Linked DNA regions of Homo sapiens: regions 1 and 2 are each linked to region 3. Evidence: fine-mapped expression QTL. A gene starts in region 3. Each other region holds a variant in brackets. All regions are shown on one strand. Distances are from middle to middle. Region 1 overlaps COL28A1 (collagen type XXVIII alpha 1 chain). Region 2 overlaps COL28A1 (collagen type XXVIII alpha 1 chain). Region 3 holds the start of MIOS-DT (MIOS divergent transcript).

Region 1 (8,555 bases), 42 kb before region 3:
CCACATCTTACATGGTGACAGGCAAGAGAGCTTATGTAGGGGAACTTCCCCTTATAAAACCATCAGATCTCATGTGACTTACTCACTATCACAAGAACAGCATGGGAAAGACCCGCCCCCTATGATTTAATTACCTCCCACCAGTCTCTCCCACCACATGTGGGAATCATGGGAGCTACGTACAATTCAAGATGAGATTTGAGTGGGGACATAACCAAAGCATATCACTCCCTTTTCTTTAATTATTATTTTTTTCATTACACAGAATTTTGCCTTAAATTTTCACATAGTTATATCTACTTTTCTCTTTGTGATTACTGCTGTTGTTCTTGAACTTGGAACCAAAATCCTAACAATGATCTGAACAGATGAATGTTTTCTTTAAAAGCCTGGGATTTTTTTTGATAGGTACACAGAGAAAAGAATTCGAGAAGTCCTTGAAGATGCTCTGGGAGTGAGAAACAATCTGGTGGTTTTTCTATGATTATTGTCAGTCAGTTAATCATTAAAAGTATACCCATTAAAAACACAAGTGCCAGTGTCAATCTGATATGGAACACATATTACTAGTTGCTGAATCATCATCCTAAATAAGATTGGCTGCTATCGTTTAAGTACTAGTTTCTGTTTATTCAATGTCCCTAGGTTTCCTAAACTTACTGACTAAAATGTTCATATATGTTACTCAGAATTTGTGAATTCAAGCTAATAGAAATAAGATAGATAATATAGGAAGTGGAAATCCTGTATTCTTCACAAAAGTTGTCACATTTTTGCCATATACTACAATGCTTTTTATTTTTAAAATTGTTGTTTTAAAAAAAAAGTCTAGAAGGAGATACGCTGGTTTAAAGAAAAGCTGTTTATTCATTTACCGGGTTTCCTTTTGGTCCTCGCTCACCTTTGATACCTGGATTTCCATGTGTACCCTGAAGGCAAAGGGAAAAAATATTATTTTAAGTAGGAATTCTATTGTTTTCTATACTTTATAATAATTTCTGATCAGTTTTGTTTCCTAGAATGAGGGAGAATTGTAAAACCTTTACCTGCCAAGCAGAAATTCAATTCTCTTCTCCCTTTTTCTACACCAGGAAAACCACTGTCTTGAATTGGCAGATTTTCTAGATTTGCTCAAAAGAGAATAATGTTTCTCTCTTCCCACCAATTACTTCTTCCCAAAACAATCACTTCTCAGCAGTTTTGCAAACAAAATCAAACTCATGCAAAGATTTAAAAGAGTAGCTGCAACAGGCAGAAGGATAGGAGTTGTTCCCAATCTCTCTTCATTGTGGGTCACTTCTACGATTCCCTCTGTCACTCACTTTTAAAAGGACCAAGCTAGCTTGCTTGCCTTTGGTCAAAGAGGTTCTGATATCCAGGAGACAATCTCAAAAGATGGGAGAAAGGAGCTCTGTAATCCTGTTCCAGAAAAGCATTTTGTTTTCCTGTTCCTAATCAACCAGAAAGCTTGCTTTTCTGAGAAATGGTGTTGGGGGTACTCGATAATGTTAAATAACATATTCTGTGGCTTATCCCTACTAAAATGTGACAAGAATGTGACTAAAATTGTCAGGTGCTTAGCAATTGTGAGCTTTCTTATTGCTCATTTTAAAATATAAAGAAATATTTCTTACCCTGGCCATCTCTTGGTGTCATAGAGATAAACGAAGACTTTATAGGAAGGGATGGCTAAACCTTTGCTTTAGCCAAAGTCAGCTTCTACTGGCTGCCCCACTATCATATAACGCATCTAACTTTGTATTTGGGGAGAAAAACATCCCTTGATTGGTAGGATGGTTTGAAAAATTGTAGGCTTTGGACCCGAGTCTCAAGGTAAAATTTGTCACATTCTAATTCATTCACAGTACACATTCCCCTCCCACCCCCAAATACAAGCATTAGTTGAAAATTTTTATCCATGCATTTTGTGAGATTCTCCATAGGGCTTCTTCTGAACTCTAAGGATGATATTTGGAATTATACAAATAAATAGAAGACTGAATGAGCACGTGAATGCTTTATGAAGATAAATGTTAAAAAAATGCTCAGCATTTCCAGTGATCTAGATGTCATTTCAAATGCCTTCCCAGTACAGACATGGCACCTACCAGTTATTAGGCCAGAATATAAAGAAAGCACTCCTTCCTGGATTATCTTATCAAACAATGAATCATCATAGTCAATCCTGCCATTTATTTTTGGTTGCCATGTGCTTACTTCCATTTCACAGAACTCACCCTAATCCCCCAAAGCATCGTGACCAGCTTCCTGTCCATGAGGCCACACGGTGTTGCTGCTGCACTGCTGCATTCGTGTGAAGCCAACATTTAACTTTCAGAGAGGCTTGTACTCCATGTTTCTAGTAGGATAAAGCTTTGCTTAAAGCACTGATTATTTGTATTAGCTTTTTCTGTATTCACTTCACTATTGAGAAATTCTGGCTTCAATTATTTTATGAGGAGGAATATAAATGTCCTTTGTGGGAACAACTTCAAAACACACCTGCCCTCAGTTCAGGTCAGTAAAATCCCAGGCTTATTTCTAAGGATAGAATGTGTCCCTTTAGAAATAAAAGAAAGAAGTAGCATTTCCATTTTTCCTCCCATTTCCAAACAATTGCTTTTCAGCAGTGCAAAATAGCCCCGATGTTTTCAAGAGCGAGTAGAGCTATCATTGCTAGGACTTTCTGACTTAAGTTCAAAGTGGAAGTATACTCACAGGAGGCCCTGGATCACCTGGATCTCCCTTCTCACATTCACAAATCTTGCGTTCACACTGAATCAATAATGAAATATGATATTAACACACAGTGAAATTCAAATTGTATGCAGCATTTCAAATTGTATTTCAAATACATTTCAAAGTGTATTTCAAATAAATTTCAAATAGCATTTCAAATTGTATTCAGTATATAACCAACTGGAGCACTCTCAAAGAAATTTTACCTTGCACATTTATGGATGTTTTGCTCTCTCTATTAAATTATTCCAGGCAAATTTATACCTACCAAGAGCTAGCTAACAAAATATTATTAAATTTCAGCATAGTTAAATAAAAGACATCCCATCAAAAATACATGTATAATATATAGATGCCAGTTAAAAGGAGAAAATAAATATTTTCAGTGGACTTTTAGAATTTCTGATCCTTCTCTTCTATATAACACATCAAAGCTCAATAATATAATAATATTAAATGCTCCTTTACTAGGCAAAGGAAAACATTTGACTTATAGCATATTTTACTAATTGTAAGATAATTGTAAGATGCACCTTCTTCCTCATTTTAACAACTCTGAAATCAGAATGAGTCTTATAACAGCTGTTGACCAGGTTCAGTCATGACAAAGTAGTTGCTTTTTGCACATGCACTTCAAAACTTACAGAATGAAATGGGAGAAAATTCCAGAACATACTTAAGAAATGCTTCATCACCAATGGTTTTGCTGGCATAGAGGTCAGTATTACGCAGAAAAACAAGGACATCAACAACTCAGACAAAAAATGATTCAGATTTACCAGGGGTGTCTAATCTTTTGGCTTCCCTGGGCCACATTGGAAGAAGAAGAATTGCCTTGGGCCACGCATAAAATACACTAACACTAACGATAGCTGAAGAGCAAAAAAAAAAAAAAAAAAAAAAAAAAAAAAGGGCCGTGCATACATTTTATAACGTTTTTAAAAAGTTTATAAATTTGTGTTGGTCCGCATTCAAAGTCATCCTGGGCTGCATGTAGCCTGTGGGCCGCGAGTTGGACAAGCTTGATTTAGAGTCTGATGTGAAGAAGTTTTAGAAATAACCAAGTTATTTTGCTTACATATTCCCTTATATGTATATATGAAAGTGATACAGGATTTTAA[A/T]ATCTACATCCAAAATGTCTAAAAACTTATTTCCACAGGTATAAAATAAAAAGTGCAATTAATAAGAAGACACTGTATCATAGATAAGCTAGCAAGGGTTTTTTCCTTTCTTTCTTTTCTTTTTTTTTTTTTAAACGGGAGTCTCACTCTGCCACCAGGCTGGAATGCAGCAGCAATCTTGGCTCACTGCAACCTCTGCCTCCTGGGTTCAAGTGATTCTCCTGCCTCAGCCTCCTGAGTAGCTGGGACTACAGTCATGCACCATCACCCCCAGCTAACTTTTTTGTATTTTTAGTAGAGACGGGGTTTCAGCATGTTGGCCAGGATGGTCTCGATCTCCTGACCTCATGATCCACCTGCCTCGGCCTCCCAAACTGCTGGGATTACAGGCGTGAGCGACCATGCCTGGCCGTTTTTTTTTTCCTTTCTTAATGGTACATAACATAATGGTATATCCGAACATGTACAATTCAATAAAACATGGTGTGACGTAGGTTTGGTTGACTCCTATTATTTTATGCAACAATACTTGTAAATTTCCTGATGTTAAATAAGCAGCTCATTGAACAAAGCTCAGATGTTCCAAACTCTTTCTTTTAAGAAATGCATGTCCAGGACAGGACTCCTCAGCAAGCTGATGATTATCTATTGTGCTAAGGCTCGTCCAATCTTATTGGCCAGTTTCCTTTGCCACGTGGTCTGGTTGCCATCATCAGGCTGCCTTTTCTTCACAATAAGGAGAATGAGCTCAAAGTCAATTGGCAGGCAGCAGGGGATGACTCTAGACTCTGTCTCTTAGCTGGGAACCCTCTGCCTAACCTAGCCAACACCAGGAACACCCCCCAAAATAGAGGACCTGATGTGGCTGATGTCAGATACATGCTTAGAATAAAGGAAGCACATCAAAGTAAGCAAAAACTATGTAGTTTGCTCATGACTGATTTCTAAAATCACTCCTGGAGTCACATTCAATATTTCCTACTTTTTCTAAATTTTCCAACTTGCATTGAATATGGTAGTATAAAAGAAATCAGATGGCTGCCTCAGAATAGAGTGGCTCATTTTAAAAGAACTAAGCATTTTTATTTAGTCACACTTAATCTTCTAATGTGAATTATAATGCTGATTTGATAATGCAAGTGTTTGGAGTAATTCGTAGTAATCAAAGCATGTGGTGCTTACCTTCTTTTCAAATAAGATATCCTACAAGGGAAAAAAGAATGAAGCATTAACTCGATTGATAGTTCTGCCTCCAGCTACTTATTAGTCATAACTATTCCCTATGGGATATGAAGTTTCCACAAAGAATAGCAATTCAGCCTTTTTAAACTTGTAAAAGCAATAAAACCAACCAGCCAACCACCCAAGGAGCAGTCCGAGCCATGTAATAATAAGAGATATAACTACCATTAAAAATTAACCTATATTTTCTAGGAACTTCATCTTACTGCATTCTATGTTTTATCTTTTGTTTCCTTTATCAGCTCTGTAATCTCCATAATTTGACTATAAAGTTAATCAGTCATAATGACAAAGCTCTCACTTTTACATACAAAGACTGAGGCAGAATATATAATTGTATATTTTCAATTTTTTCCATCCCTATGCACATATACATGCATCTATTTTTCATGATTTATTTTTCAAGATTAAAACAATATAGTCATAACTTCATGAAATATTAATGGGTGTTAGATCATATTAAAACTCAAAAAGAGAAAATTACAAAGTCCAGTGACATTTTTTGAGATGATCTGAATTATGAGAAGACAAAGATTTCCATTATTATGATCACTAGGGGAGGAGTTTTCTATTTCAAATTTGAAAAGCCTCCAATATGATACTTTATTTACAGAATTTCAACAGAAGCCAAAAAAGATACTCAGCTTTTAAATTTAAACAGTATTAGGAATAATATTTTGGTAAAAATTTTGAACTGTTCATAGCAATATGCATTACTTATGTAAAAGAGGACTTACATTTATAACTGGCTAACTTAGGGGAAAAACTAAGTGATAGAAAAGTAATACATATTTCATAATAAAAAATGATCATTATGAAAAACAAAAAAACAAATTTAATGAGTCTTAGTCAATCAGACTCAACCTCTTGCTTTGCAATAAGGAAACATGGTTCCACCATAATGTGACTCAACTGAGGTAACACACTTGGGCTGCACCTCCTGACCGTCTTCAGTGCATGTCATATGTACCATACAGGAATGAATTAGCCAGAATATTTTTCAAAACTATTTTAAATTTATAATTTTGCAGAAATGTCATGATCTTGTTTTTGTCTAACACCTAGGCCTCACTACCATACTTGAATTCAGTGGGATATTACCTGACAAGTGCACTGAAGGCTGTGTTGGAAGACAAACGCTGGAAAGAAACTAATCTATGTTTATATATAGAATTAGTACTTTCTTAACCTAGAAATTATGTGTCAAACCAGTGCCTTGTGATTTCATCTGAAGGGGTAATTTACATACGATAAAATAGAAAGATGAAGGAGCAAGCACTGGAATATTTGTTGCAAGATATTAAAAATGCAGAAGCTAACAAGGAAGTTAAATAAGAGTATGTAGCTTTATGAAGGATGCTGCATCCCTTTAGTTTTATTTTTACTTTATTTCCGTACAAACTAATACTATAGAGGGACGAGATAACAAAATGCTTTAATGATTTAATAGGGAAAAAATTAGGCTGGGAATTAAGTGTCATTCTGGGTTTCCATCCCGTTTCAACAATTAACTAGCTATGTGGCCTTGGACAAGTCATACAATCCTTCCAGGTAATTTTCTCCATATATAAAAAAGGACAAAGTTTGACTACATGATCTCAGGAGCTATAAAACCCTAGCCACAGACACTAGCTACAAAATTTAGAGTCTCACCTACCACCCCTCCCAACCAAACGATTTTAAATTACTAGCCATGTAAATCCAGGCTGAAAGCAGATGAGATATTTGTATCTTTAAGAGCTAGGAGGTCCTATGGAGAAATAGGAACTCAGATACACTGATAGTTTTAGTTAAAATGGTATTACCCTCTGTAGAACATTTGGTTATGCCTACAAGGCTGAAGATGGACCTGCTTTATCACGAGGCTGCCAGGACAATTCTTGCTTTTGCCTGTTATCCTGACATCCTTTCTAGACATACCACAGGGAAATTCTTGCACTTGCACATTTCAGCATTCATTGTTTTTTGTAATGAAAAACTGTAAATAAAATAATTGCCAATAGTGGAATGGATCAGCAAATGAAATACTACTCGGCAGTTAAAGTGAATGCATTGGATCTACACATTTCAACAAAATTTCCAAAAAAACATTGAGTGCAAAAGCAAGTTGTAGATAGATACATACAATATGATCTGATTTATTAAAATACGTAAGATATTTCAAACCACGTCAGAGAGTGGTTTCCTCTGGGAGAAAGAGAGAGAAAAGAAATTCAAAAGAAGTTCAACAGAGGCAGTAAAACAACTAATAATTCAAGTCAAATTGTAATATTTAAAAACCACTACTGAAATAAAGAAAAATTTAAATATTTGTCACTTTAAAATCTTTTAACAATGAGCAATATCTTTTTTTTTTCTTCTTTTTGAGATGGAGTCTCGCCCTGTCACCTAGGCTGGCATGCAGTGGCATGATCTTGGCTCACTGCAACCTCCACCTCCTGGGTTCAAGCAATTCTCCTGCCTCAGCCTCTGAAATAGCTGGAATTACAGAGCACGCCAACAAGCCAGGGTAATTTTTGTATTTTTAGTAGAGACAGGGTTTCATCATGTCGGCCAGGCTGGTCTCAAACTCCTGACCTCAAGTGATCCACCCACCTTGGCCTCCCAAAGTGCTGGGATTACAGGTGTGAGCCACCGCACCTAGCCACAATAAGCAATATCTTAATCAATTTTTAAATTCACGAATTCAGCTCTTACTGTGCCTGATGTGTAATTTTATACTTTTTTCAGTTCTTTCTTTTAAAATTCAATTTCTTCTTTGCCATATTGCTCTTTAGAAATATGTGGCATAAGGCTTAAAACCATAGCAATGCAAAAAACTATTTTTGGAACTCATTTAATTTTGTGTTTGCTGGAATTTATATTTCTATGGAAACAAAAATGAACCCAAAACTACACAATAGATAAGACTGTTTCAAACAAAGAACAAAGCCCCATCCCTGAGGGCTCTTATAGGCTATAAGCCCCAGGAACAGAGGACAACACACAGCAACCCGAGTAGGAAGGAGGTCCTAGGCCAGGGGCGGGGGAGCCGCTAACAAGATGGCTTCTTGGAATAGGTGGGTTTTCTGGATGGTTTTGAAGAGAGGAATGCAAAGGACCACCCATTGATGGTATGCTGTCCTATATGTCAAAGTTGATGAGGAAAAAAGTCATAAGGACTAGTGTGGGCAATAAGACAAAGGAAGTAGTTATGAGGAACATTTAAAGGGAGTGGATGGAAGGGCCCACATGGACAGAGCCGGAGGCCTTGGGAGGTGGCGAGGGCTTGCACTCAGGCAGGGAAGCAGGCTGCAAGGAGAACAGTGTCAAAGCCTGACGGGAGGCCATGTTCAATGACAGACTGGGGGCATGCTTGAGTTTCAATGAAAAGGATAAATAGGGAAAGGGTCTCATGACAGCAAAAGAAGATGCAGTCAGAATTTCATTAATGGATTCATATATATGGCATAT
Region 2 (8,555 bases), 55 kb before region 3:
TGTGTCACTTGTTATTGCTTTTTGGTTTCTAATGAGCCATAAAATAAATAAAAGTCAGGAGTAAGAAGGAAACACAGCAAAGATTCTAGATAATGGCTTATAGTTAACAATATCCCTCTTTGAATAACATAATAATAAATGATAAAGGTATGCTGCTAACTTCCTGAATGCATTAGGACTTAATTCTCTGTATACATCTGCAGGTTATTATGCATTTCCAAAGGTACTTCCTCAAAGAATCCATTGACTTTTACCTAATAAAACATACATTACTATAGCGCACTAGGGGAAAGGCACTCTGCCTGTCTTTAATCAAAGGGTAAGATTACCTTATTGCCTTGAAACCCCTTTGGGCCTGGGTCTCCTGGAGGTCCAGTAATTCCCTGCTCCAGGATGAAAACCAAGAATTAGTTCTGTGTACAAAAGGCCAGCAGGAATGAATCATTCTTTAGGGTCCCTAGAGATCCTGGCGATCGAAGTTAGACTGTGTAACTCAGAGCTAAATTGAAATCACATTCAATCGAGAAGTGGGATGAGATAAAATTTCTTGTGTCAAATACGTAGCTTCCAAAATAGCACTTATGCTAAGAGCAAACATTTAATTAACGAGATGTTTGTTTACTAAACCTGTGTTTCCAACATTATTCCAACGTTCTTGACTCCTTTTAAAAAATATTTTGCCAGTTAAGTATCTTCTTTTTTAAAATATCTAAGGCATATGTAACTGACGTTAGAGCTTCCAATGAACCTGGGATAACCAGAATGACTGCCTGGCTCTGACATTTCCAGGCTAAAGCAAAGAAGTTAGTGGTTAACTAGATGGTGTCTAGGAGATTCTGGGTAAAATTATAATTTTCTGTAGGCTTTTTGAAATACTGAAATTAACTCCTCACACAGAGCACCATTATAACTTTAGAAGAGATAAGTTCCTAGGCTAGGAAAAGATTCAAATTATTTTCTGAAATCTATGGATGTCTAACTTAAATGCCTTAGAGAATCAGTCCATATTATAGAACATTATCTAGTTATAGAACAATAAAAATATACTGTGATTTAGATAAAATGCATAACTTTTCCAACTACATTATAGTAGCAGTGCAAAAATAGTTACATCCTGCTTTTAACCACTTGACTTTCCATCTTTCCAGACTCTTAATTTTTTAACTTCATCCCCTAAGCTGCTCACTAATACTTGCCTGTTGGTACCTATCTTTAGGGAGTCTTAGTTAAGTTAATGAAAACATTAGGGAAGTTGTTTCCAAAATTTATTGCACATTGTAATCTTCTGGGTATCTTAAACAATATTAATGCCTGGCTTCAATCCCCAGACATTCTGATTTAACTGGCAGAGGGTGCAAGTGGGCAAGGGGATGGTTTAAAAACTCCCCAGGTGATTCTAATTCAAACTTAGATTTGGTTTTAACCCCCTTACCTGAATTCCTCTGGGTCCCTTTGGTCCATATGGCCCTGGGGATCCCTGTGGAATAAAATTGAAAATAAGTCTCTCTAAATATACATCTTCAACGTGCAGTGATTTTAGGTAGGAGGGAAGGAAATGTGTTCTCGGTAATTGCCATCTTCCCTGGTTATCTTAACATCAAAGGCAATAAACTGAAATAATCCTAATTAACAAGCCAAGGGGTAGGAGTGTCAAACTTTCCTTCAGTAAACAATCTCCATGAAAATACAATTTTAGATGTAAGTCCGTTGCCTACATATTGACATTTTGGTCATTTTGGTTACAGTAAAGAAATTACTTTATAAGATTCCTTAGAGGGCTATAAACTTATTGGAATATTATTTCCTTCCGACAGGGTAATGTCAGTTAAATTAACAATGTAGTGCATTTCCATGCTATCTAGATCACTCTTTTGCTCATCTTCAAAACACTGAACGTGGCAAAACACTGTTTATATTCAATACTCTTCTAATAGAAAATATTTCATTCGGTCCCATAACCAGGAAACCCTTTAAAATTTATTTTGTGAGGGAGAACATAGTCTAGTTTTTATTTCCCCAGATTTCCACTTTTTTTTTTTGCTTATCAAAGTACAACCTGTTAACAATTGACACACTTTGACAATTATAGAAACATATAAATAAACAATTTGAAAAATCACACAGAAGCAAATGCTGTTAACATTTTAGGCATATTTTCGTCCAGTTTTATTCCCAGTAGATTCCTCTTCAAATAATGTGATCAAAGTGTATGTCTGATTTTGTGTCCTACCCATTTGGCCTTACACTGTATCAAAAATATTTTTCCGGCCAGGCGTGCTGGCTCACGCCTGTAATCCCAGCACTTTGGGAGGCCGAGGCGGGCGGATCACGAGGTCAGGAGATGGAGACCATCCTGGCTAACACAGTGAAACCCTGTCTCTACTAAAAATACAAAAAATTAGCCGGGCGTGGTGGCGGGCACCTGTAGTCCCAGCTACTGGGGAGGCTGAGGCAGGAGAATAGCGTGAACCCGGGAGGCGGAGCTTGCAGTGAGCTGAGATCGCGCCACTGCACTCCAGCCTGGGCAACAGAGCGAGACTCTGTCTCAAAAAAAAAAAAAAAATTTCCTTTTTCCATGTCATTAAAAACTCATAGTAAACAGATAATAGTCAAGAATAGGGAACTACCATAATTTATTTACTCATTTCCCTAGCTTTGACCTAATATTATAATGAACATCTTTATGTATAAATCTCTGCCCAACTTCTGATTCACTCCTAAGAATAGTCTACTAGAAGAGGATGATGGAAGCAGAGACCATAAGCACATTTAAGGTTCACCGGCTGTCCTTTGTCTCTCATGCCATATATAGAAATAAAGAGAGAGAAACTTCCTCCATAAAGTTTGTTTGTTAATCATTTCCACTACCCGAGTATGAGAGAGTGTATCTTCATCTTATGGGCTCCCCATCAACAATTAGTATTATACATTACTTCACTGTTTGCTAATTTGATAGGTGATATAATACTTTTGTATGTTTGCTTTTGGTTGCTGGTGTTGTTGTTGTTGTTGTTTGAGACAGGGTCTTGCTCTGTTGCCCAGGCTGGAGTAGCTCACTGCAGCCTCTATCTCCCAGGTTCAAGCAATCCTCCCACCTCAGCCTCCCTAGTTGCCCACACTGGTGATATAATACCTTATTGTTTTATTGTTGGTTTTGTTTTGTTTTTGAGATGGAGTCTTACTCTGTCCCCCAGGCTGGAGTGCAATGGCACAATCTCGGTCCACTGCAACCTCTGCCTCCCAGGTTCAAGCAATTCTCCTGCTCCAGCCTCCCGAGTAGCTGAAATTACAGGTGTGCACCACCATGCCCAGCTAATTTTTGTATTTTTAGTAGAGATAGGGTTTCACCTTGTTAGCCAGGCTTGTCTCAAACTCCTGACCTCTGATGACCTGCCCACCTTGGCCTCCAAAAGTGTTGGGATTACAGGCATAAGCCACCACGCCCAGCCTATTTTGTTTTTTTTGAG[A/G]CAGGGTTTCGCTCTGTTACCCAAACTGGAGTAGAGTGGCACAATGACAGCTCACTGCAGCCTCAACCCCCTGGACTCAAGCAATCTTCCCACCTCAGCTTCCCAAGTATCTGGAATTACAGGCACATGTCCAACTAATTTTTAAATTTTTTGTAGAGACGGGGCCTCACTATGTTGCCCAGGCTGGTCTCAAACTCCTGGACTCAAGTGATCCTCCCACTTCGGCCTAATTTTAATGTATTAATTTCACTTATCTGATTGCTACTGTATTCGGATATTTTTCTTATTTATTAGCCATTTTAATTTCCACTTCTCTATCTCTTCATGTTGTTCATATGTTTTTCTGAACAAACTTGTGTAAACTCTTCGTGTCAAGGACTCTATATCTCATCAGTTCTAAGGCACATTTTTTCACATTTTTATATCTCTGACATTGGGGTATATTTTACAGTCAATTGCACCTTACATTTATAATTGGCAGTGGGTTTTTTTTGTTGTTGTTATTCCTTTTTGGTATGGAAAATAATGGGACATTTAATAATCCCTGACATCTTAGTCAATGAAATATGATATCCTTTGTCAACCATTTTAATTTCATCTAGTTTTCCCAGGTATTCTTTGACTTTCATTTCTATTCTATTCTATGTGTGTCCCTTTTTCTGCATTGCCAATATCCAGGTCCATCTTCCATGTTCAGTTATACTCCAGGAAGAATCTATTCATTTTCACATTTCCCATTTTGACCAGAGATAATTACCAAGCCTACCTTTTGCAGATCCACCTGACTTTAACTCTACAGTACTTTAAAAGCATTCAGAAAGTCTCAATCTATTTAAAGTGTTTAGTTTCATGGGCCAAAGTCATTATCTCACCCTCTTCTCCTAACCTTCTGCCTCATTTTCTCTCCTTGACTCCCTTCCAGAATTATAACATAGAAACTGAAAAAGTTTGGTATCTTGGTGGCATGATGTTAATAGTTCTTAATATAATGAAAACTATTTATTTTTACTCTGTACTTTTTTGGACCCTTTAACATCATGTTTCAGATATACTCTCTGTATATATTTGGCCTTTTGAGGAACTCTTTAACATAATATTATTTCCAAATTTAAGTGCTTTCATTATTGATTGATTGATTGATTGATTGATTTTTGAGACGGAGTCACTCTGTCACCCAGGCTGGAGTGCAGTGGCACGATCTTGGCTCACTGCAACGTCTGCCTCCTGGGTTCAAGCAATTTTCCTGTCTCAGCCTCCTGAGTAGCTGGGACTACAGGTGCACGCCACCATGCCTGGCTAATTTTTGTATTTTTAGTAGAGATGGTGTTTCACCGTATTGGTCAGGCTGGTCTCAAACTCCTGACCTCAGGTGATCCACCCACCTTGGCCTCCCAAAGTGCTGGGATTACAGGTGTTAGCCACTGCGTTCAGCCTATATTTATTTTTTAAAATAAAGGTGAATATTTATCCAATTGTTTGTGTCTACATTTTCAAAATTCCAAATCTCTATGTCTAGTTGCACCACACTGTTTATAACTATTTCACTGACTGATTTCAGAGTTCTTCACACTATTTTGGAAAGTGCCTGTTTTCAGTGTTTGCATCTGGAAAGCACTTCTACCCTGACCTAACTGCAGCTTTAATTAACTTTGCAGGTTAAATAATTCTTTTTACCATAACATTCAGTGGGCGTGGCCTCCAAGGTTAGGGTGTCAGAAAATGAAGTCTTAATGGTCCATAAAAAAGGCATTTGGGGGTTCTATTATTGAGTTAGGCATCACTTTGTTTTCTACCACATGTTTTACAGATGTGAAAAATTGAGCCATTGATTCCAACTCTAGTAGTGAGATCACCATAATTCAGCCCAGGAATTTCCCCTTAAGGAAACGCAACCCAAAAGGGATCACAGCTGTAAGCAGTTTAAAAACATGTTCCTTACCTTGTCACCTTTTATCCCTGGTTTACCACATTCCCCACGTTCACCCTAAAAAATAAATAAGTGAAATAAATAAGAGAACACTTGCAGTCATTCACTATTAAGAATGTTTGTTTGTTTGTTTTTTAAATTCCCAGCAGACTCTTGTAACATAAGCACTCTTTTGGTTTCTACACAATATTAGCCTCAATACTGTGGGTTTTATGGGCATTGAAATCTGAATATTTTTACCCAAGAGTCATCCTTAACTTGACAGGAATAAATCAGGAACAATGTAATAAGGTTTGACATTTTTAAGAAATGGATGAAACTAGAAGAAAAGGAACCTAGCATCTAATCACATATTAGATGCCCTTTGCATATGTGGTTTAATTGAATCCACATAACGGTCCAGGGAGATCAGCTTTATCATTCTTATTTTATAATTGAGAACATTTAAACTCAACAAGATAATTTCCCTCTATCAAATAGCTAGTAAGTAAAAGAATCAGAGTCTGAACCCAGATACTTTAACTTGGAATTCCTATTTTTTCAAGAACACCATGCTTCAGCCTGAGTACCAACCTTGACCACCTAGTAGTGTTCACCTGGAGAACCGTGAGAGAAAGGTTCTGAAGTGAGATTGCATCGTGAGTTAGTGGGAACAGGTGCCATGATGAGTTAGCGAGGACTGCTGTAGGAGAGCCGGGCTTGGCAGCAAGCATGCTACATATTTTTCATTATTATGCTCTACTTCCCTGTCTTCCCTAGAATATTGCTGAAAAAACAACATTTGAGTTATTCTTTAGAGTTTATCAGTGATAGTTTATCATAAATATTTTATCTTAGTTAATCTGACATTACCTGTCTGAGATAAATATTAATCCAATTTTATAGATTAAAATTTTGTAATTAAGAAGGTTAAGTAAAGAGAATGTGGTATACAATGGAATATTATTCAGCCTTTGAGAAAGAAATCCTGTCATTTGTAACAACATAGATGAACCTGAACCTGGAAGACATTATGTTTAGTGAAATAAGCCAGGAACAGAAAGACAAATATGGCATGATCTCACTTATATGTGAGATCTAAAAAATTTGAACTCACAGAAGCACAGAGTAGAAGGGTGGTTACCAGGGGTAATTGGTGGAAACTTGGGAAATGTTGGCCAAAGGATACAAAACTAGTTAGATAGGAGCAATAAGTTCAAGAGATCTATTGTTCAACACGATGACTATCATTAATAACAATGTCTTGTATTGAAAATCACTAAAAGGGTAGATTTTAAGCATTCTCACCACAAAAACTGATCATTATGTGAAGTGATATATATGTTAATTAGCTCAATTTAGCCATTTTATAATGTATACATTTATCAAATTATATTTTATACAATACAATAAATATGAACTTTTTAGATTTGTCCATTAAATTTTTTAAATAAAACTAAATATTTTTAAAAGGTTAGTTTCCTCAAGTAGAAGGAGAATTGGGACCTCTGAATACTAATCCATTATATCAGACTTTTGAAACTTCTACTACTTAGAACTAAAAGGTGACAGTCAGAAAAATGACTAAAGTTTCATAATCATAGTAATATTATCTCCTTTATAAATCACTTTAGAGTTTTCAAAATGCTTTTATATATATCGTTATTTTGATCCTCAATTCAATTCTCATTTTCAAGATAAGGAAACACAATTGGATATGTCAAATGATTTACTTAAATGTACAGGCTACCCAATGACTCCTAGTCCAGTGCTCTCAACACTAGCTTCTGCTGCTGCTTCTTTATTCTGCCTCTGTACTGCTCTAGGGCATGTTACTGGAAGTGCCACTACACAATGACAAGGAAATTACATTCAAATGTAAATCAATGCACTGCTTCTTTCATCAAGGAAGTCTTGCTATGAAAAATAAATGTCAGCTGAACTTTAAACAGTATACGTTGTAATATAGTGGATTTATATGCTGGCGGAAGCTTTATCTTGTTGCAGAATAGCAACAAACCATTCACAGACTGGCAGCCAGCCTGCAGACCACAGTTTCAACAGCAGTGCTCTATGGAGGGAAATCACAACTGTAACCTCCAATTATGGATGCAAAGTGTGTGCCATAGCCTTTACATTATTGCTAATCCCCATAGCAGCCTTGCGAGGTATATATACATATCTCCACTCACAGATAAGCAAAATGAGGCTCAGAGACATTACATACTTTGTCCATGACCACAAATTTGAGTCTGTTAGGCTCTCAAGTCCATGTTCTTATCAGTCACCTGTAGCTGAACAAGGCACACTATCATAGGCTGCAAGTCACTTTCCATTAACCTGACATTTCTGCCTAGGGTACTGCCTGGGCTCTTGCAGGCATCAGGAGCAGGAAAGAGGGAGGTGTGACTCTTAGAGCCAGCTATGCCTCTGATCAAAAGCAATCTGTTCTCTCTTCACATCCTTTCGTGAGTCAAACTGACCCAGGAAAAACTGAGCTTTCACTTAGAACAAGTTGAACATTTATTTCTGAATGCAAATGGAAAATCACTTTTGAAGAATCAATTAGAAAGCAATTAATTTAATAATTTTGGATGGGAATAAAATGAGTCAACCACCAAAATATAAAACAGAAAGTACCATAAATACACTCAAAATGCTTTTGGCTACAATTCACATTCCATTTGTCCAGACAGATTTGTTAGCTATAGGGGCCTGAGGAACAGCATTTGTTTTTTGGGGGGCACAGATTGCCATCAATGAAAATATTGTATTCATGTTATTTGCCTCTGCAAAGGCGTTTTCCTTTTTGGTGGGCTCATTAATCCCTGTGGAATGGCCACAACTACATGGTTTCAGAAAGCGAGTACTTCAGAAAGCCATGAACAGATCAGCTCTGTTCTCAGCCTCTATTTTCTGATGCTGCTGCTCCTGGTGAAATTCTGGTTTGAATGTCGATGGTTCAGGGTCACTTTGCTCTGACAGCTTGTATTTTCCAAGTGAGAACTCTTCCAGTGAATCAATAATTCTCCAGAAAGTGAAATTAATCTTTTCAAAAAATATATGTATAAAGCTTCCTTGTGTTGATAACTACCTCACTATATAAATCAAAATGGAGGAGGGGGCCACCCACTATTTTCCTCAACTATACACACAGTTGATAATTTTACAACTGTGAAACT
Region 3 (8,555 bases):
CAAACATTGACAAATGAGACCTAATTCAACTAAAGAGCTTCTGTGCAGCAAAAGAAACTATCAACATAATAAACAGACAACCTGCAGAATGGGAGAAAATTTTGCAAACTATGCAACTGACGGAAGTCTAATATCCAGCGTCTATAAGGAACTTAAACAAATTTACAAGCAAAAAACAAAAACCCTATTAAAAAGTGGGCAAAGGACATAAACAGACACTTTTCCAGAGAAGACATACATGTGGCCAACAAGTATATGAAAAAAAAAAGCTCAACATTACTGATCATTAGAGAAATGCAAATCAAAACCACAACGAGGTACCATCTCACCCCAGTCAGAATGACTATTACTGAAAAGTCAAAAAATAACAGATGCTGGCAAGGTTGCAGAGAAAAAAGAATGCTTATACACTGTTAGTGAGAATATAATTTAGTTCACCCATGGTGGAAAACAGTGTGGCGACTCCTCAAAGACCTAAAAACAGAACTATCATTTGACCCAGCAATCCCATTACTGGGTATATACCCAAAAGAATATAAATCATTCTATTATAAAGACACATGCACATGTCTGTTTGTCGTGGCACTATTCACAATAACAAAGACATGGAATCAACCTAAGTGGCCATCAATGGTAGACTGGTTAAAAGAAATGTGGTAAATATACACCATGGAATACTATGCAGCCGTAAAAAAGAATGAGATCATGTCCCCTGCAGGAACATGGATGGACCTGGAGGCCATTATCCTTAGCAAACTAATGCAGGAACAAAAAACCAAATATCGCATGTTCTCATTTATAAGCGGAAGCTAAAAGATGAGAACACATGGACGCATAGAGGGAAACAACAGACATTAGGGCCTACCAGGGGTGGAGGGTGAGACAAGGGAGAGAATCAGGGAAAATAACAGGTACTAGGCTTAATCCCTGAGTAACTAAATAATCTATATAACAAACCCCCATAACATGAGTTTACCTATATGGCAAACCTGCACATGTACCCCTAAACTTAAAATAAAAACTTAAAAAATCTTCCTTGTCCTATTTAAACATAATTCTTGGTATTGAGGTAAATCTGAATTCACATGATATGCTTTGTCAAATTTTTCCAAAAACTTTTTTTTTTTTTTTTTTTTTTGGAGACAGAGTCTCACTCTGTTGCCCAGGCTGGAGTGCAGTGGCATAGTCTTGACTCACTGCAACCTCTGCCTCCCGCATTCAAGCGATTTTCCTGCCTCAGCCTCCCAAGTAGCTGGGACTACAAGTGCGCACCACCATGCCTTGCTAATTTTTGTATTTTTAATAGAGACGGGCTTTCACCATGTTGGCCAGACTAGTCCTGAACTTCTGACCTCAGGTGATCCACCTGCCTCGGCCTCTCAAAGTGCTGGGATTACAAGCATGAGCCACCACACCCAGCCCTGTTTTGCTTATAATTTAAAGATTTAAAAAATATTACAAATCATATACTTGACAACTATGTAAATTTGTTTTGACAATGTTAGGTGTAATCCCAAAATGCATGAAGAAATGCATTGATTTAAAAAATTTATTTGGGGATATTCTAGAAAAGTTTTTGAAGGCCATTATTTTAAGATATCTCTGATCTTCTGATCTTCAACCTATGTGAAAAGATTACCTAAGCCATGGCACATGTTTACAGGGCTTCATTTCAGCTTGATACCTGCCCAGCCTCCATCTAAAAGCAAAACTTGCTCTCAGGTACAGACTGATTTTGTGCATGTGGAAATAAAAAGAATTGGGATTAGCCAGTCACAGACTTCACAAAATGTTCCAGTACTGTAGTAACTGAATTGCTGCCAGGAGCAGCTGTAAATAAGAAAGAAATTCGCTGTCCTTCAACTGCAATCCTTCTGGTTTTAAAACCACAACAAAAATCCTCTCCTGGATCACCACAACATAAATGAAGAATCTTAAAAAGAACATCCTGGCCAAGCGCAGTGGCTCATGCCTGTAATCCCAGCACTTTGGGAGGATGAGGCAGGCAGATCACTTGAGGTCAGGAGTTCGAGACCAGCCTGGCCAACATGGTGAAATCCCATCTCTACTGAAAATATAAAAATTAGCCAGGCATGGTGGCGCATGCCTGTAATCCCAGCTACTCAGGAGGCTGAGGCAGGAGAATCACTTGAACCTGGGAGGCAGTGATTGTGGTGAGTTGAGACTACACCACAGCACTCCAGCCTGGGCGACAGAGCGAGGCTCCATCTCAAAAAAACAACAATAAAAAAATCCTATTAGGAATACAAAAGCTTAAATTAAAAACAAACAAAATACCGAGACTGAACTACAGTGGCCCTAGGATCTATTGTAAAACGCATGTTTAGTAAAGGCAACTAGTGTAATCTCAGACCAGTCTGTCAAGTTCTCTGCTACGGTTTACTGTTTCCAAAGATACAAAGCACTCACTCAACTCAGTAAATATTTTTTGGATACCTATGCAACAGGTGCTAAGGGAAATCCAAAGTTCCATGCTAAAAGATTGCTACCTGCAAGGATCTTGGTTTAGTAGAGAAGGGGAATCAGTTTCCAAAAAGACTGAGAAAGGTGTCACTTATTCCTGTGAGGGGCTTTAGAAGAATTAGTGGCAATATGAAAAAATATATACTTTCACAAAGCTTGAGTGGAAAAGAAAGTTGAAAAAGGGACATTAGCTGGAGGAGGATGTAGAATAAATACGTTGTTTTAGGATTTATTCAATACATTTTTATTTACCACATTTATTAGGTACTGTTTTACATCCTGGTGATTAAGCAGAGAATAAAATAGACAGAGCCCCTCTGTTTTAATTAGGGAATTGGCTAAGCTGCTCTACCAGGTCCAAACAAACAATGATTTTTTAAAGAACAAAGTTTATTTTCTCTTGCATAATGGTCCAGAAGTCTGTGGTTGATCCAAGGGAGGAGGTGCCCCAGCTCCCTGAGATTAGTTTGGGACTTAGGCTAGTGAGAACAGCTTTGCCTTCCTTAATACATGGCTTCCATTTCCAGTCTGTATTTCTTTTTGCCATTTGCCAGACAGCAAGAAGAGGGAAGAGAAAGTGTATAGCAAGCAGCTTTCCTTTTAAGGGACATGATCCAGTTCTACTCACATCTTACAGGACATAACTTTTTGATATAGCCTTACCTTGCTGAAAGGGAGGCCAAGGAATGTCATGTCTAAGTAGGTCACCAAGTGCCCTGCTCAAATTTGAATGTAGAGTTATTTCCTCTTACTAAAAAGAAAAAAAATACAGAATGAAAACTGGAGATAAGGAGAAGACACAGTCTAGAAGATAACTATAGGAAAGTAAAGAGATGGCGACGTATGTGAAGTTGTGGTGTCATAAAGACAACAACAAAGGAGCTAATTTATAGGTAGTCAGTGACAAGTGAGCAGTCTTGAGTAAAGGGAGAGTATGAGTCATGTAGATTTCTGCATTCCAGACAGAGGGAATAGCTAGTGAAGAAGCCCTGAGGCAAGAGCATGCTTGTCATGTTTAAGGAACAGTGAAGTCACAGGGATAAAAGACAAACCAGAAGAAAGTGATGATATGCAACAAAGTGAATGAGACATGTCAAGAGAGGAAGTAGTCAAGAACAACAGAAGTTGCAAGAGTGAAGCTTTGGCCATTGAAACTGGCAGCATGGAGCTCACAGGTGACCTTGACAAGTGGCAGTTTCGTGGCATGGTGGGCATGAAGGACTGAATGGAGTGAATTCAAGGGAGAGAGGGGGAAGTGGAATTACAGAGAGCAAATATGATCCTCTCCTTTGAAGAGAAAATGGGAATAACTTGAGTATGTGTTGAAAGTAAAGAACCAGTAGAAATGGAGAGGCAAAGATACATGGAAGTGAAGTAATTGATGGTGCAAGGTCCCAGAAGAGGAGATATACATGGGGTTCCTCCTCTTACTCTTTGTCACCTAAAAGAAGGTAAGAATGGTAGTGAATCAAGATGTTGGAGGAGGGAAGGAGGAAGCAGTGGGAGGTTGTGCAAATTCTAGCTAATAGTTTTAATTTTCTTTTCTGAAGTAGGAGGCAGTGTCATCTCCTGAGTGCAAGCAGAAAAGTTGTCCTCAACTATGTATAGTAGGAGTGGATAAGGAAGAGATTTGTATTGATCTGAGGTTTTGTGTGGGGGTTTGAGGCCAGGGTCAAAACCACTGAGAAGATTGGCAAGATAGTGTTTGAAGTGATGAATACTGTCATGTCTCCTCTCAGTAATACAGCACTTTCTTCAGCCTACATTCTTCTAATGGCAGGATTGGAAAGGCAATACTTTCCCCAAACTCATCATCTTATCAAAACCATCTGCCACCAAGATCATCAGGACTAAGCTCATTATGCTGTTTACAGCCATCACCACCACAAGCCCAAGACCACCCACTTTTAATCATGAACAGACAAGCAAAGACTGTCAGACATCTGAAGACTGCCTCGAGGTCAGACTCGTGACACCTGAGGCAGCACCATTCACTCAGTTTTGGGAACAAAAAACTTGGAATCCTCTTTCACCGTCATTCACTTGGTCAGTCACCAAGCTCTGTTCATCCCGCCTTCTAAGTATTCCCCAGGGCCCCCACTTCTCTCCATGCCCACTCTCCGTGCCACTGGTAACCTGCGTTTCTATCATCCCTCATTCTGATACTCTATCCCTCCAGCTCTCTGCGCAAAAACTGATCATACTGGCCGGGCACAGTGGCTCATGCCTGTAATCCCAGCACTTTGGGAGACCGAGGTGGGCGCATCACGAGGTCAAGAAATGAGACCACCCTCGCCAACATGGTGAAACCCCATCTCTCCTAAAAATACAAAAAATTACCTGGGCGTGGTGGCGCGCGCCTGTAGTCCCAGCTACTCGAGGTGCTGAGGCAGGAGAATCGCTTGAACCCGGGAGGCGGAGGTTGCAGTGAGGAGAGATCGCGCCATTGCATTCCAGCCTGGCGATATAGCCAGACTCCGTCTCAAAAAAAACAAAACAAAACAAAAAACTGATCATACCACTTGCCTGATTAAAAACTTTCGATGACTCTAACATTGCCTTTAGGTAAATGCCATCCAAACTCACTAAACTGGTTTCCAACCCGTTTCTGAAAGCACCTTAATCTCTCCCCACTTCCTCTGCTCATTCATCCATACCTACTGCCTCCTCACTGCTATGTCCTCTCTCCTGACCCGGCACTTGCTCTTTCCCAGTCCTAGAAGGCTCTTCTCTTCCAGTTCCCACTGCCCTTTTCCCTTTCCTGGCTAATCCCATACTCATCCTTCTTGTCTCAACCTAGTGGTCCTTAAGGAAGCTTTGCTGACCCCCGACACCGAGCGGGCGTCCCTCCTGTGTAGCACTGTGTTAGCCCTACCAAGTCAAGGCTCTCCTTGCCTGTTTCCTGCCGGAACCATGTCTTTTTACTTCACTCCTGTCTCCTCAGCATTCCAGCACAGTGCTGGGTACATAACAGGTGCTCAAGACAAGTTTGTGGAATGACTAATGAGTGAATAAATCATTAACCAAACACCTTGGATCTCCTACTACATCATTTGCAAAAAAAAAAAAATGTTTAATAGAAATTAAAATGGACCCAGTGAGCTAGAGTGTGTGACCCTGCTTAAAAACGACAGAGTGGTTCTGAGAAGCAGTCCCAGCCTAGGAACCCGGGGATCCGGCCTGTGGACCCACGGGCAGGGCCTGCGGGGTGCACCGGCGCTTTCGGGCGGAAGGCGGGGCCTCCCGGCCAGTGACCCCGCCCCGAGGCGCCTCCCGGGCGGGGAAGGGCGGGGCTCGCGCTGGGAAACTCCCCTTCCAAGGCCGAGGCGCCGCTGCGCGTCCTCCAGGCGTGGTGGTGGGGTCGTGGGTCCCAGCCCAGTGGTCCAGGTCACGGGCCGCACGGCCGCGGCCGCCATCTTGCCCGCGTCCGGGCTCCTGCGGCGGGCGGGGCGGTGTCCCGGCCGGAAGCGGCTGTGCGGCGGCCGCGCTGCCACCTCAGGTCAGTGAGCGCGACCCGGTTCGCGTCTCGACTCTCGGGAGCGCCGCGGCCGCAGCGAGGGGCCGGAGATAGCCTAGTTGAAAGGCCCGGGCGTCTCGGCGGGGAGCGCGTTCCGCGCTGTAGGGTAATCGCGCCGGGCGGCCGGCCGCCTGGCCGGGCCTCAGCGGGAGCCACCGGGGGCTGCGGGCGGCCGTGGGACCTGCGGAGACCTCCTCGGGGCGCAGGGAACACGCTACAGCCTTCGCCGCGGCGGGCTTGTGGGGAGCGGCGTCCCAGCCTTTCCCGGGAGGCTCAGCCAGGTGCCTGGAGCGGGAGAGTCGGACTCAGATTCCTGCTTTACCTAGAATAGCAACGTGCCCTGTTCCCGTTGTACCCTCTTAAATACTATACTTCTTAAACGGCCTGTCTCCCGGTGAGCTCTGTTCTCTTCTCATATGAGTAATGAAAATTAAGAGGATGAATGAAACCTCACACATGTTGTGGACTTTGCTGAATAGGTTAGCAAATGACTGCAGGCCTTTTGTATATTTTAAGGGAAATTTGGATATGTGCAGTGCATCTCCTCGAAGATGCTGATGGTGGAAATTTCTTGAAACCGCTCTCGTAATTTGCCACGGTAAGAAAAGTAAAAGACAACATCAAAAAGCATGTGGTTGGATCCTTTGTACACTGAGTAGTATTTTAATGTGTTGGACTTCACTGTCCAGTAGCCACATGGGATTGAGATGTGCTATAAGTGTAAAATACACATCGGATTTCCCAGAGTTGGTGCCAAAAAAACGTAAAAATCCTCAATAATTTTTGCATTGATTACATATTGAAAGGATAATGCTGTTGATATGTTGGCTAAATAAAATGTGTTTTTAAATTTCATTCCACCTAATTTTACTTTTTAAATGTGGCTACTAGAAATTTTTAAATCATATGGCTCACACTGTATTTCTTTTGGACAGTGCTGTTGCAAATATTCTGGTGAATGAACACAGAATCAGCATGGCTTTCCTTTGCTGAGAAATCACTGATGGGAAGTGAGACTTGTTAAACTTGAAAGGTGAGGATATAAATACAAGCTGTAATTATTGCAGACCGCACCCCTTCTACACCTAATTTTTTAATGTCTCCAAAATTTGGAAAAAACATTAACTTTCAGGGCTGATTAAGGGAATGGTAGTAATACTAACATCTGTGTGATGTGAAGAGCTCATTTCAGTTGATTGTCACAGCTTTGTGAGATGGAAATGGGATAGATTTTATCTCGGTTTTATGGTTTTGGAGTATTACAAGATTTGTTAGGATCTGAGCTGGGGAGTGGCTGTAGGATTTCTGACTCTAGATTGTTTTCTTTACACCAGATTCTTGGTGATGTATGTTCATGAGCAAGGAACTGTTTATCCTGTATATTACATGGTGAAAAAAAATACACTTCTTAAAAGGGTGGACATAGATGCACCTCTCTATACAGGGCTACTCTTATGATGTGCAACCTGTGCAGTAGCACAGAGCCCAGCATTTAGAATGGCTAGCACTTAGTTTAATGGCCAGTCTGCTGTCACTGTCTGGACATTGTAAATAATTTTTAAATGAGGGGCCCTGCATTGTTATTTTGCACCACGTCCTGCATATCGTGTAGCTGATCCTTTTCTTTGCAGTAATCTAGGACGGAAGTTGAGAGACCTTGGATAACCACCCAAACATCTGGTCTTCACTTTACTCCTTTGTGAAATTAGAAGATTTAGCTAGTCTTTTTCTCTCAAGTTTTGATTCTGTATGAATTACTGTCATCAGATTTTGTGGATGGCAATAGAAGTATTTTAGGTGCATAACATGGGAAGAAATGCTGATATTCTCCGTTGAGAGTCATGTAAATCAAAGTTTTAAATTTTATGCTAAAACTCGTATTTTATGTTTTGTAAGATGGATTTTTCTTTGTGGCATCAAGATTGCTTACCATAGACCATTGGTATAAAGAGTCGGGTTGTGGAATGAAAGCCTAGATAAAAAGTGTGTTTATTTAAACATTGATTTTTCAATGAGATGGGAAAATGGCCCAGATCTCATGATGTCTCCAATTAAGAGATTTCCTTTGTGGGGGTATGAGTATGAACCCTTATTTGGCAGTATCTGTTCCTCTTTGCTGTCGTAGCTGCTTCCTGTTACGTGAGGTGCCCCTCTTCCTCCTCATTCTTAAATTTTGAAACTCTTTTTAAGGTTGGACTTAATTTTATCACTACAGTGCAGGTTTTTTTTAGACCAGAGACTTCATCGGCTCATGTTTGCTGCTGTGTTCCCAGCTTCATAACCATGCCTAGAACATAGAAGGTGCCCAATCAATAGTCACAGAATAAATGAAAGTATAATAGCAGACATTTAAATCTTGGCCGGAGCCAGCCTCTCCTAGGGAGCGTAGAAGTGGAAGCATGAGGAAATAGGTAAAACTTGGAGATAGCAGTTGTGAGAAGTGTCAGAGGGATCATTCAGCACATGCATTTATTTAACAAATGTTTATTAACTTCCTACTAAGTGCCTAGCACTGTACTGGGGACTAGAGGTACAATGGAACACCAAAAATACT

The links. PIP is the estimated chance that this variant, and not a neighbour inherited with it, causes the effect.
Region 1: its variant is the best candidate, but not a certain one, in a credible set for the expression of MIOS-DT in spleen (GTEx, PIP 0.82).
Region 2: its variant is the best candidate, but not a certain one, in a credible set for the expression of MIOS-DT in skeletal muscle (GTEx, PIP 0.54).

The regions. Positions count from the first base shown.
Region 1 is chr7:7,519,187-7,527,741 of GRCh38, forward strand. COL28A1 (collagen type XXVIII alpha 1 chain) reads right to left here. Exons shown (of 35, transcript NM_001037763.3): 4 at 5,043-5,063; 5 at 2,719-2,775; 6 at 876-929. Among named protein-coding and RNA genes, the nearest start is that of COL28A1, 12 kb to the right of the region's middle. The variant A/T (reference allele first, on the strand shown) is at 3,861.
Region 2 is chr7:7,505,685-7,514,239 of GRCh38, forward strand. COL28A1 (collagen type XXVIII alpha 1 chain) reads right to left here. Exons shown (of 35, transcript NM_001037763.3): 9 at 5,407-5,451; 10 at 1,433-1,477; 11 at 330-383. Among named protein-coding and RNA genes, the nearest start is that of COL28A1, 26 kb to the right of the region's middle. The variant A/G (reference allele first, on the strand shown) is at 3,468.
Region 3 is chr7:7,561,090-7,569,644 of GRCh38, forward strand. MIOS-DT (MIOS divergent transcript) reads right to left here and starts at 4,976. Exons shown (of 5, transcript NR_110084.1): 1 at 4,825-4,976; 2 at 3,148-3,235. MIOS (meiosis regulator for oocyte development) reads left to right here and starts at 5,795. Exons shown (of 13, transcript NM_019005.4): 1 at 5,795-5,983; 2 at 6,518-6,599; 3 at 6,937-7,034. RefSeq lists a silencer at 5,616-6,265 and enhancers at 6,516-6,585, 8,163-8,222.